Regions from separate parts of the Homo sapiens genome. Here region 2 is linked to region 1. A link means that fine-mapping ties the variant in region 1 to the expression of a gene that starts in the linked region. Tissue or cell type: CD8 T cells. Region 1 holds a variant in brackets; the other region holds the start of a gene. All regions are shown on one strand. Distances are from middle to middle.

Region 1 (5,142 bases):
CCTTAAATGTCCACAACACTGGGGACAACAGGGTGGAGTGGAAGAGTAGCCCAGATCCAATGTTGCTTTCACAGTAGCATGTATGGGGAAGAAGAGCTTGTTTGCCAGCCGCTTCCTGAATGCTTTGCTAAATATCATTTCATTTAATTCTCACTTGTAGCATTCAAATGGGGTAGGCTGTATTTTCTTTGCCTTTTTTTTTTTTTTTTTTAGACGAAGTCTCGCTTTTGTTGCCCAGGCTGGAGTGCAATGGCATGATCTTGGCTCATTGCAACCTCTGCCTCCCGGGTTCAAGTGATTCTCCTGCCTCAGCCTCCCGAGTAGCTGGGATTATAGGTGCATACCACCACGCCCGGCTAATTTTTTGTATTTTAAGTAGAGACGGGGTTTCACCATGTTGGCCAGGCTGGTCTCGAACTCCTGACCTCAGGTGATCCGCCCGCCTCGGCCTCGCAAAGTGTTGGGATTACGGGCGTGAGCCACTGCGCCCAGCCCCAGTGGGTAGGCTGTATTTTCATTACAATTTTTTTTTTTTTTTTGAGATAGAGTCTCACTCTGTCACCCAGGCTGGAGTACAATGGTGTGATCTCGGCTCACTACCTCCTGGGTTCAAGCGATTCTCCTGTCTCAGCCTCCTGAGTAGCTGGGATTACAGGCGCATGCCATCACGCCCAGCTAATTTTTGCATTTTGAGTAGTAACGGGGTTTCACCCTGTTGGCCAGGCTGGTCTCCAACTCCTGACCTCAGCTGATCCACCTGCCTTGGCCTCCCAAAGTGCTGAGATTATGAGCATAAGCCACCACACCCAGGCTATTTTTAGTACAATTTAACAGCTGGGAAACTGAAACTGATGCCCAGAGGCATTAACATACAGGTAATCATACAGAGGTTGTTTCGTTTCATCAGCTGGTAAATTGCAGGCTTTGGACTTTGGGTGAGAACTCTGACCTGGATGGGCTGGGCTGTTTTGCAGCGACTCTCTCCTGTAACTTCTGGAAAATCAAGTAGAGTCTCTCAGGCCCTCCTGGCCCCTCCCTTCCAAGGAGAGAGGTGTGGGGTGTGTGCATTGTTGCGGGGTGGGGGTCCCTGCCCAAGTCCCTGTGCTTCCTGGGAGATGATTATCTTCTGCCTCCCATTCTCCCCCAAGTTCTTCCTCCTCTTTTTTTTTTTTTTTTGAGACAGAGTCTCACTCTATTGCCCAGGCTGGAGTTCAGTGGTGCGATTTCCCCTCATTGCAACTTCTGCCTCCCGGGTTCAAGCGAATCTCCTGCCTCAGCCTCCTGAGTAGCTGGGATTACAGACGCGTGCCACCACACCCAGCTCATTTTTGTATTTTTAGTAGAGACGGGGTTTTACCATGTTGGCCGGGCTGGTCTTGAACTCCTGACCTTGTGGTCTGCCTGCCTCGGCCTCCCAAAGTGTTGGGATTACAGGCATGAGCCACTGCGCCCGGCCCGAGTTTAAATATTGAGATGACAATTACTTCCTAGCCCCTCTCTGCGCCTGCCCTGTCTCCCTACCCTTCCTCTCCCTAACTGACTTAGAGACTGGGGCTCTGCCACAGGGGAGGGTGGGGAACCCTGGGGTCCTAGAGTGGTGGCATGTGGGCAGTGGCAGGTGCTTCCTCCCCTCCTCACTAGAGAGGTGCCCAGCAGGGCCAGGGTCGGGGCTGGGGCTGTGCTGGGAAGCTTTGGGCCATTGACACATGGGAGCTACAGCAGAAAATGGATCAGCTCAGAACATCTGGGGGCTCTCTGCATCTAGGGCGGGACTCCTCCTCCTTTATTTTTAAATTTTTAATTTTTAAAAAAGAGATGGGGGTCTCACTCTGTCACCCAGGCTGGAGTGTAGTGGTGCGATTGTAGCTCACCGTAGCCTTGACCTCTTGGGCTCAAAGGATCCTCTCACCTCAGCCTCCTGAGTAGCTGGGACTACAGACCCATGCCACCAAGCTTGGCTATTTTTTTTTTTTTTGGATAGATACAGGGTTTCGCTATGTTGCCCAGGCTGGCCTTGAACTCCTGGGCTTGAGCGATCCTCCTGCCTTCAGCCTCCTGAGTAGCTGGAATCGATTACAGGTGTGAGCCACCGCGCCTGGCTTCCCTACTTTCATTCAGTTGTGACACCCTCCCATCCTCGTCCTGGGCGCACTTAACAAATGTCTGTGCTGCAGGCAACAGTGATGGCGGGAAATGAGAGGGGAAAGATCTTAGATGAGTGGGGAGAAGTTATTTCCTGGCTGGGGAATATCCTTTTTTAAGTTACATTTTGGGCCAGGCACAGTGGCTCATGCCTTTAATCCCTGTACTTCGGGAGGCCGAGGTGGGTGGATCGTTTGAGCCCAGGAGTTTGAGATCAGCCTGGGCAACATAGGGAGACCCCCTTCTCTACCAAAAATACAAAAATTAGCTGGGTGCGGCGGTGCGTGGCTGTGGTCCCAGCTACTCAGGAGGCTGAGGTGGGAGGATGGCTTGGGCCTAGGAAGTCAAGGCTGCAGTGAGCTGAGATCGTGCCACTGCACTCCAGCCTAGGGGATAAAGGGAAACCCTGTCCTAAAAAAAAAAAAAAAAAAGTTATATTTTATTTATTTGGACAGTTAGTGAATTCATAAAATTGAAAACGTATAAAGTGAAAAGTTCTCCTCTTCCCTGCCTTCCTCGACCCAGTATTCATTCCTAAAGCAGTGTTAACTGTGGTCCTATATTGCATATATTACCCACTTTTTTTCTTCATTTTTTTCTGTAGCCCAAACAGGTACATGCATATATCATCAACAGGTATTTTTCTGCCCTGAATCCATGTTTTTACATAATTGTAGCATCCTTTACACACTCTTCTGTACTTGACTTAAAAAAAAAAGAAAGAAACCTAGCTAACAGTGTATCTTAAGGATAGTTCCAGATTTGTACATCATAGACTTTCTCATTTTTTTTTTTTTTTAGACGGAGTTTAGCTCTGTCACCCAGGCTGGAGTGCAGTGGCGTGATCTCCAATCACTGTAACCTCCGCCCCCCAGAGTTCAAGCGATTCTCCTGCCTCAGCCTCCCAAGTAGCTGGGATTACAGGCGCCTGCCACCACACCTGGCTAATTTTTCCATTTTTAGTAGAGGCAGGGTTTCT[G/A]CATATTGGCCAGGCTGGTCTTGAACTCCTGACCTCAAGTGATCCACCTGCCTTGGCTTCCCAAAGTGCTAGGATTACAGGCATAAGCCACCACACCTGGCCCTCATTCTTTATTTTTTGCCTGTTTAATGAAAAGCTGCATACTTTATATTGCATGAAAGTAACATAATTTTATTTATTTATTTATTTATTTGGAAACGGAGTTTTGCTCTTGTTGCCCAGGCTGGAGTGCGATGGTGCGATCTCAGTTCACCACAACCTGCGCCTCCCAGGTTCAAGCGAGTCTCCTGCCTCAGCCTCCTGAGTAGCTGGGATTACAGGCATGTGCCACCACTCTCGGCTAATTTTTTATTTTTAGTAGAGACGGGGTTTCTCCATGTTGGTCAGGCTGGTCTCGAGCTCCCGACCTCAGGTGATCTGCACGCCTTGGCCTCCCAAAGTGCTGGGATTACAGGCATGAGCCACCTTGCCCAGTTGAAAGTAACATAATTTAATTTGTCCCCTACTGATGAGCATTTAAGTTGCTTTCAGTTACTTGCTATTACAAACTTAGTGCACAAATAATTTTGCAGTGTTGCAAGTATATCCCTGGGATAAATTCCTCAACATGTATTACTGGGTCACTAGTTATTGGTTGCCTATAGTTTTGCCAACATAGTATATTTAAAAGTAAAATAAAATTGGCTGGATGTGGTGGCTTATGCCTGTAATCCCAGCACTTTGGGAGGCTGAGGTGGGAGGATCGCTTGAGCCCAGGAGTTCAAGACCAGCATGAGCAACATAGTGAGACTCCCAGCTCTCCAAAAAATAAAAAATTGCTGAGTGTGCTGGCTTGTGCCTGTAGTCACAGCTGCTTGGGAGGCTGAGGTGGGAGGATCGCTTGAGCCCAGGAGTTTGAGGCTGCAGTGATCTGTGATCATGCTACTGTACTCCAGCCTGCATGAGAGAGTGAGAACCTGTCTCAACAAACTCCAAAAACAAAACAAAAAAAATTGTCCCATTTAAGAGGTGAATGGTATTTCAGTACAGCTTTACTTTATTTATTTATTATTTATTTTTGAGACAGAGTCTTGCTCTGTCACCCAGGCTGGAGTGCAGTGGCACAATCTTGGCTCACTGCAACCTCCGCCTCCCAGGTTCAAGCGCGCTCCTGAGTAGCTGGGATTACAGACGCGCGCCACCATGCGCAGCTCATTTTTGTATTTTTAGTAGAGACGGGGTTTCACCATGTTGGCTAGGCTGGTCTTGAACTCCTGACCTCGTGATCTGCCTGCCTTGGTCTCCCAAAGTGCTGGGATTACAGGCGTGAGCCACTGCACCAGGCCAGTTACTTTATTTTTTTAAAAATTAAAAATTAATTAATTTTTAAATTAATATATTTAATTCAGTAAGCATTAAGGGTTTAATTAGCTTAATTTTTCCTATTTCTTTTGAGACAGAGTCTTGCCCTGTCACCCAGGCTGGAGTGCAGTGGTGCTATCTCGGCTCAGTGTAATCTTTGCCCACTGCAATCGCTGCCTCCCGGGTTCAACTGATTCTCTTGTGTCAGTCTCCCGAGTAGCTGAGATTACAGGCATGTGCCATCATGTCCAGCAAATTTTTGTATTTTTAGTAGAGACGGGGTTTTGTCATGTTGGCCAGTCTGGTCTTGAACTCCTGACCTCAGGTGATCCACTCACTTTGGCCTCCCAAAGTGCTAGGATTACAGGCATGAGCCACCGCACCTGGCCTACTTTCTATTATGAGGAAATTTGAGCATCTTTTCATGTGTTTTCCAGTTTTCCGGTTTATTAAGTTCCGCTCTTATCTTTATTAACGTCTATGTGCTCTCTCAGGTTTATAGGTTTATTTTATTGTTTGTTTTACAACTTCTGGAATTGGATTTCTAATTAATTTTATTTATTTATTTATTTTTTAGAGAGGGGCTCTTGCTATGTTGCCCAGACTGGAGTTCAGTGGCTATTTACAGGTACAATCCTACTACTGATCTGCAGGGAGTTTTGACCTGCTTTGCTTCTGAC
Region 2 (5,142 bases), 29 kb before region 1:
AGGCTGGTCTCAAACTCCTGAGCTCAAGCGATCCACCTGCCTCGGCCGCCCAAAGTGCAGGGATAGCAGGCGTAAGCCACTGCACCCAGTCTTCTTCTTTGTATTTTAATAAAGACAGCGTCTTGCTGTGTTGCCTAGGCTGGTCTTGAACGCCTGGCCTCAAGTGATCCTCCTGCCTTGGCCTCCCAAAGTCGGGGGATTGCAGGCTAGAGCCACTGCACCTAGCCTCTCTCATTCTCTTTGACATCGTCCCTTCCCCAAGACCTAAGGCCATACCTCTGGCCTCTCTGATTCCCTCCTGTGCCCCACCTTCTCTGGGTTCCATTGTTGGTGCCCTGCAACCCCAAGGCTTGATGGCCTTCTTGGTTCTCTTCCCCTGCAGGAAGTTTGCCCCAAGATGCTCAGTGTGCGGTGGGGCCATAATGCCTGAGCCAGGTCAGGAGGAGACTGTGAGAATTGTTGCTCTGGATCGAAGTTTTCACATTGGCTGTTACAAGTGCGAGGTCAGGGGCCCCCAGCACGTGCAAGGGGCTGGCAGTGTCTAGGGTGCTGGGTAGAGCATGAGGGGGAACACAGAGGTCTGGGGTTGATGGAAACCTGTTGCTTCTTTCTTTTTTTTTTTTTTTTGAGACGGAGTCTTGCTCTGTTGCCCAGGCTGGAGTGCAGTGGCACAATCTTGGCTCACTGCAACCTCCACCTCCCGGGTTCAAGTGATTCTCCTGCCTCAGCCTCCTGAGTAGCTGGGATTACAGGTGCTGGCCACCATGCCTGGCTAATTTTTGTATTTTTAGTAGAGACAGGGTTTCACCATATTGGCCAGGCTGGTCTTGAACTCCTGACCTTGTGATCCTCCTGCCTCGGCTTCTCAAAGTGCTGGGATTACAGGCGTGAGCCATCGCGCCCGGCCAATTGTTGCTTCTTTTTCAACAGGAGTGTGGGCTGCTGCTCTCCTCTGAGGGCGAGTGTCAGGGCTGCTACCCGCTGGATGGGCACATCTTGTGCAAGGCCTGCAGCGCCTGGCGCATCCAGGAGCTCTCAGCCACCGTCACCACTGACTGCTGAGTCTTCCTAGAAGTACCTGCTGGGTTCTCAGTTCCAGTTCCCATCCTTTGATTGATCACTCTCCCTGACATCCACCTGTATGACTTTGTCACCAAATGCTGTCTTCTCTTTCTCCAATCAAGAAATAATAATCCCTCGAGTTTACAAAACACTTCCAAGTCTGTTGTCTCATCTGATTCTCCCAGTAGCCCATTACAGGCCCAGTCATTGTTACTGCCTGCATTTTTTTTCTTTTTTTTTTGAGACGGAGTCTGGCTCTGTCACCCAGGCTGGAATGCAGTGGTGCCATCTCGGCTCACTGCAACCTCTGCCTCCCAGGTTCAAGTGATTCTCTTGCCTCAGCCTCTTGAGTAGCTGGGATTACAGGCGCCCGCCACCACGTCTGGCTAATTTTGTATTTTTAGTAGAGACGGGGTTTCACCACCTTGGTCAGGGTGGTCTTGAACTCCTGACCTCAAGTGATCTGCCCGCTTCACCCAACCAAAGTGCTGGGATTACAGGCGTGAGCCACCGCCCTTGGCCACTGTCTGCATTTTTACATGTGAGGATGTCAGAGCTGAGAGGTGACTCCCCCAGATTGCATGGTTCTTAAATGGTGGAACCTGGGTCTTTTTGACTCAGGTCCAGTTTTTTTTGACAACTCTTGTAATCCGTCACTACCCTCCTCTCAGTGCTGGGAGCAAGCACGCCTCAGGGAGGAGGCAAGATTTCCTCTATGTATCTATTTTGAGACAGGGCCTCACTCTGTTCCCCAGGCTAGAGTGCAGTGGTGCAATCAAGGCTCACTGCAGCCCTGAACTCCTGGGCTCAAACAGTCCTCCTGGCTTAGCCTCCCCAGTAGCTAGGACCACAGGGGCATCCCACCAAGCCCAGTTATTATTTTTTTGTGTGTAGATGGGATCTTGCTATGTTGCCCAGGCTAGTCCTGAACTCTTGGGCTTAAGTCCTCCCTCCTCGACCTTCCCAAGTGCTGGGATCACAGGTGTGAGCCAATGTGCCTGGCCCTAAATATTCTGTAAAGGGGCCTTGCTATGTTGCCCAGGCAGGTCTCCAACTCCTGGGCTCAAGTGATTCTCCCACGTCGGCCTCCCAAAGCGCTGGGATTGCAGGCGTGAGCCATCTCAGCTGGTCTTCCTATTAAGTCTCACACTCAATTCACTGAGAGGGGCCTTGGTGTTACTCCCGGGGGTGGTAATCCATTGAATCTGGGCGGTCCATACTCTGTTTAGGGCGTTAACTTACAGCCTATTTCATCCAAATACTGAGCGGGGTTAAGACTGAGATCTGCCAATTTTACTTAAAGACGGGGCGTCTTTGTCGAGGAAAAGCAGGAACGGCGGACTTTGCATTTAGTGCGCACTGTGGCACCCAATTTTGGCTGGATATTTGGAGCAGAAAATGGTGGGATACGATGCTTTAAAATGGTTGCTTCCACCTTCCATCCCCTAAGCGCCCGCGCTTCCCAAGCCCACGCCCTGCCCGAGGAGGGGACGAAATCACCCCCGGTGAGGTCAGGAGGCCCGTGGGGGGAACATGGCTGGATGAGAACCGTCTTAGGACCCCGACACATCTGGGGTCGCGCGATCCTCGACTTCCGCTCTCCCTTCGCGCCCAGAGGGCTTGTTCGCCTCCCGAGGCCGCGCTTGGCCCAGCCGAGGTCCCGTAGTTCCTAACGCTCGAGCCGTTATCGTCTCGAAAAGCCGCGCGAGACTTGCGAGATCCCCGCCCCTTTCCCATCACGCCCTGCTCTCCCCGCCCTTCGCGCTCGGTTTGTTAGTTCCAGTTCCGGCCGCGAGGGTGGAGCTTTGTGCCTCGGAGGCGTGGGTGACGCAGGCGCAGCGCGGGCTGCGCGCGCTACTGCCCATCCCCGGTTGTCCCACTTTTGTTCGCCTCTCTTCGGCCCTCTACTCAAGAGCTCCGTCTCCGTCTCGCCCTCCTCGAAGTCCTCGTCGCGCGCCCGCGACCCAGGTCGCCCTGAAATCTAGCCCGTCCGAGCGCGAGTCCAACGGCCGCGGCCGCACCAAGGTGGGGGAGGGGAGGAGCCTGGGGGGCCCCGCTGGGGCGGGAGAGGAACCGGGGTCCACGGGGGCGGGCGCGGAGAAACTCGGGGCGAGTGGAGGTGTTGGAGCCGCGTTCTCAGGCCTAGGATGGTGGGGGCCGCGGAGGGCTGGCCTTGGCGGGAGGGAAGCGGGCGAGCTGCCCGCGAGGGACGGTCCCTTCCTCCGCTCGTCCTTTTGCACCACTCCTACCGCCTCTCCCCGGTCCCCAGGCCCCCTCAGACCGTGCCATGGGTGACAGTGATGACGAGTACGATCGAAGGCGCAGGGACAAGTTCAGAAGAGAGCGCAGCGACTACGACCGTTCCCGCGAGAGAGATGAAAGACGTCGAGGGGACGATTGGAATGACAGGTGAGCCGTTTTTAACTTCATCTTGTCCCCGTTTCATGCCGTTTCACTCCACCCGCGTCGCTTTTCTTTCTCCCCCTTGTAATTTTTATGAGGGCGAATCCTATGAAATGGCTCATTGGACCGTTTTCTGTGGTTCAGCCTATTTGCTGTTGGCCAAATAACTAGCTGTGGCTTGGTTTTTGAAATTCTCTGCAGATCAGAGCTATAGAGCTAAGAGTTTGAGTATGAAGAAGCACTGTTTATACATGCACGAAAAGCGTGCTTTTTTGCTTTTTTTTGTTTTGTTATTGAGATGGGGTCTTGTTCTGCTGCCCTGGCTGGAGTGCATTGATGCAGTCGTAGCAGCCTCCACCTCCCGGGCTCAACCGAGCCTCCCGCCTCAGCCTCTTGAGAAGCTGGGACTCCAGGGGGAGGCCATCACGCCCGCCTAACTTTTAAAAATTATTATTGTTATTTCGAGACAGAGTCTTGCCCTGTCGCCCAGGCTGGAGTGCAATGGCGCAATCTTGGCTCACTGCAACCTTCGCCTCTGGGGTTCAAGTAATTCTCCTGCCTCAGCCTCCCGAGTAGCTGGGATTACAGGCACCTGCCACCACGCCCGTCTAATTTTTGTATTTTTAGTAGAGACGGGGTTTCACCATGTTGGCTAGGCTGGTTTGGAACTCTCGACTTTAGGTAATCCACCCAGCTCGACCTCCCAAAGTGCTGGGATTACAGGCATGAGCCAGTGCTTGGTCTAAAATTATTTTTTGTAGAGACAGCGTCTTGCTCTGTTGCCCAGGTTGTAAATTATATTTTAGGAGGATTGCTTCAGAAAAATAATAATATAGAGTTGATCTGACTGGAGAGGTCGTCAGATTATTTCCCTGACAATATATGATTAGGTTTCTTGTCACTGTTTTGCCTAAAATCTCAGAGTTCATAGGGCGGTGCTGATTGGATTGATTATAAGATGTGGTTATTGACCTTAGGGTGTTACAGTGAGCTTGGCATGGGGGATCAGAATGGCAGTGGATGTATTCTGTAAATGAGTATATATAGTGGAAGTTATAAAGAGGGTAAGCATTGAGGGAACAGATCTCTAAAGGAGGGGAGCGGTGCTGGAGGTTGTGTGTCAGGGACCCACTGGAAAGTGACACTTGGCTAGACTTGGAAAGATGAGTGGGAATTCCCCAGACACGAGTGACATGAACAGCTTGGAGTTGTGGACATAACGTGTGATTTTAGCATATTCTAGTTTGGTTAGAGTCCTGTTTCTCAGGATGTCCACAGACCATAGGGGGTCTCCGAGGCTAAAATTAGTTTTTGTGGTAATGTTTACATATTATTGCCATTTCCACTGTTGGTGCCATAGCAATGATGGGTAAAACCGCTGATGCTTTACCAAACATCAAGGCAGTGACAGCAAAGAGTTAAAAAAAAAAAGCCAGCCGGGCCCAGTGGCTCACACCTGAAATCCCAGCACTTTGGGAGGCCGAGACGGGCAGATCACGAGATCGAGAGATTGAGACCATCCTGGCCAACATTGTGAAACCCTGTCTCTACTAAAAATACAAAAGTTAGCCAGGCATGGTGGTGCGCGCCTGTAGTCCCAGCTACTTGGGAGGCTGAGACAGGAGAATTGCTTGAACCCAGGAGGCACAGGTTGTAGTGAGCTGAGATCACACCCCT

Alleles and levels. Alleles are on the strand shown, and positions count from the first base shown. SD is a standard deviation of normalised expression in the study named.
In carriers of allele G in region 1, the expression in CD8 T cells of the gene that starts at base 2,862 in region 2 tends to be lower than with A alone (large effect, 1.0 SD a copy in Kasela 2017).

What was found. PIP is the estimated chance that this variant, and not a neighbour inherited with it, causes the effect.
Region 2: SRRT starts here. The variant in region 1 is fine-mapped to the expression of SRRT in CD8 T cells (Kasela 2017, PIP 0.95).

What each region holds. Positions count from the first base shown.
Region 1 is chr7:100,901,254-100,906,395 of GRCh38, forward strand. It overlaps the pseudogene RN7SL549P. Among named protein-coding and RNA genes, the nearest start is that of ACHE, 7.9 kb to the left of the region's middle. The variant G/A (reference allele first, on the strand shown) is at 3,122.
Region 2 is chr7:100,872,242-100,877,383 of GRCh38, forward strand. SRRT (serrate, RNA effector molecule) reads left to right here and starts at 2,862. Exons shown (of 20, transcript NM_015908.6): 1 at 2,862-3,087; 2 at 3,332-3,471. The coding sequence starts at 3,350. TRIP6 (thyroid hormone receptor interactor 6) reads left to right here. Exons shown (of 9, transcript NM_003302.3): 8 at 383-503; 9 at 931-1,213. The coding sequence ends at 1,062. RefSeq lists enhancers at 1,747-2,411, 2,412-3,077, 2,654-2,703, 2,914-2,973 and a silencer at 3,114-3,343.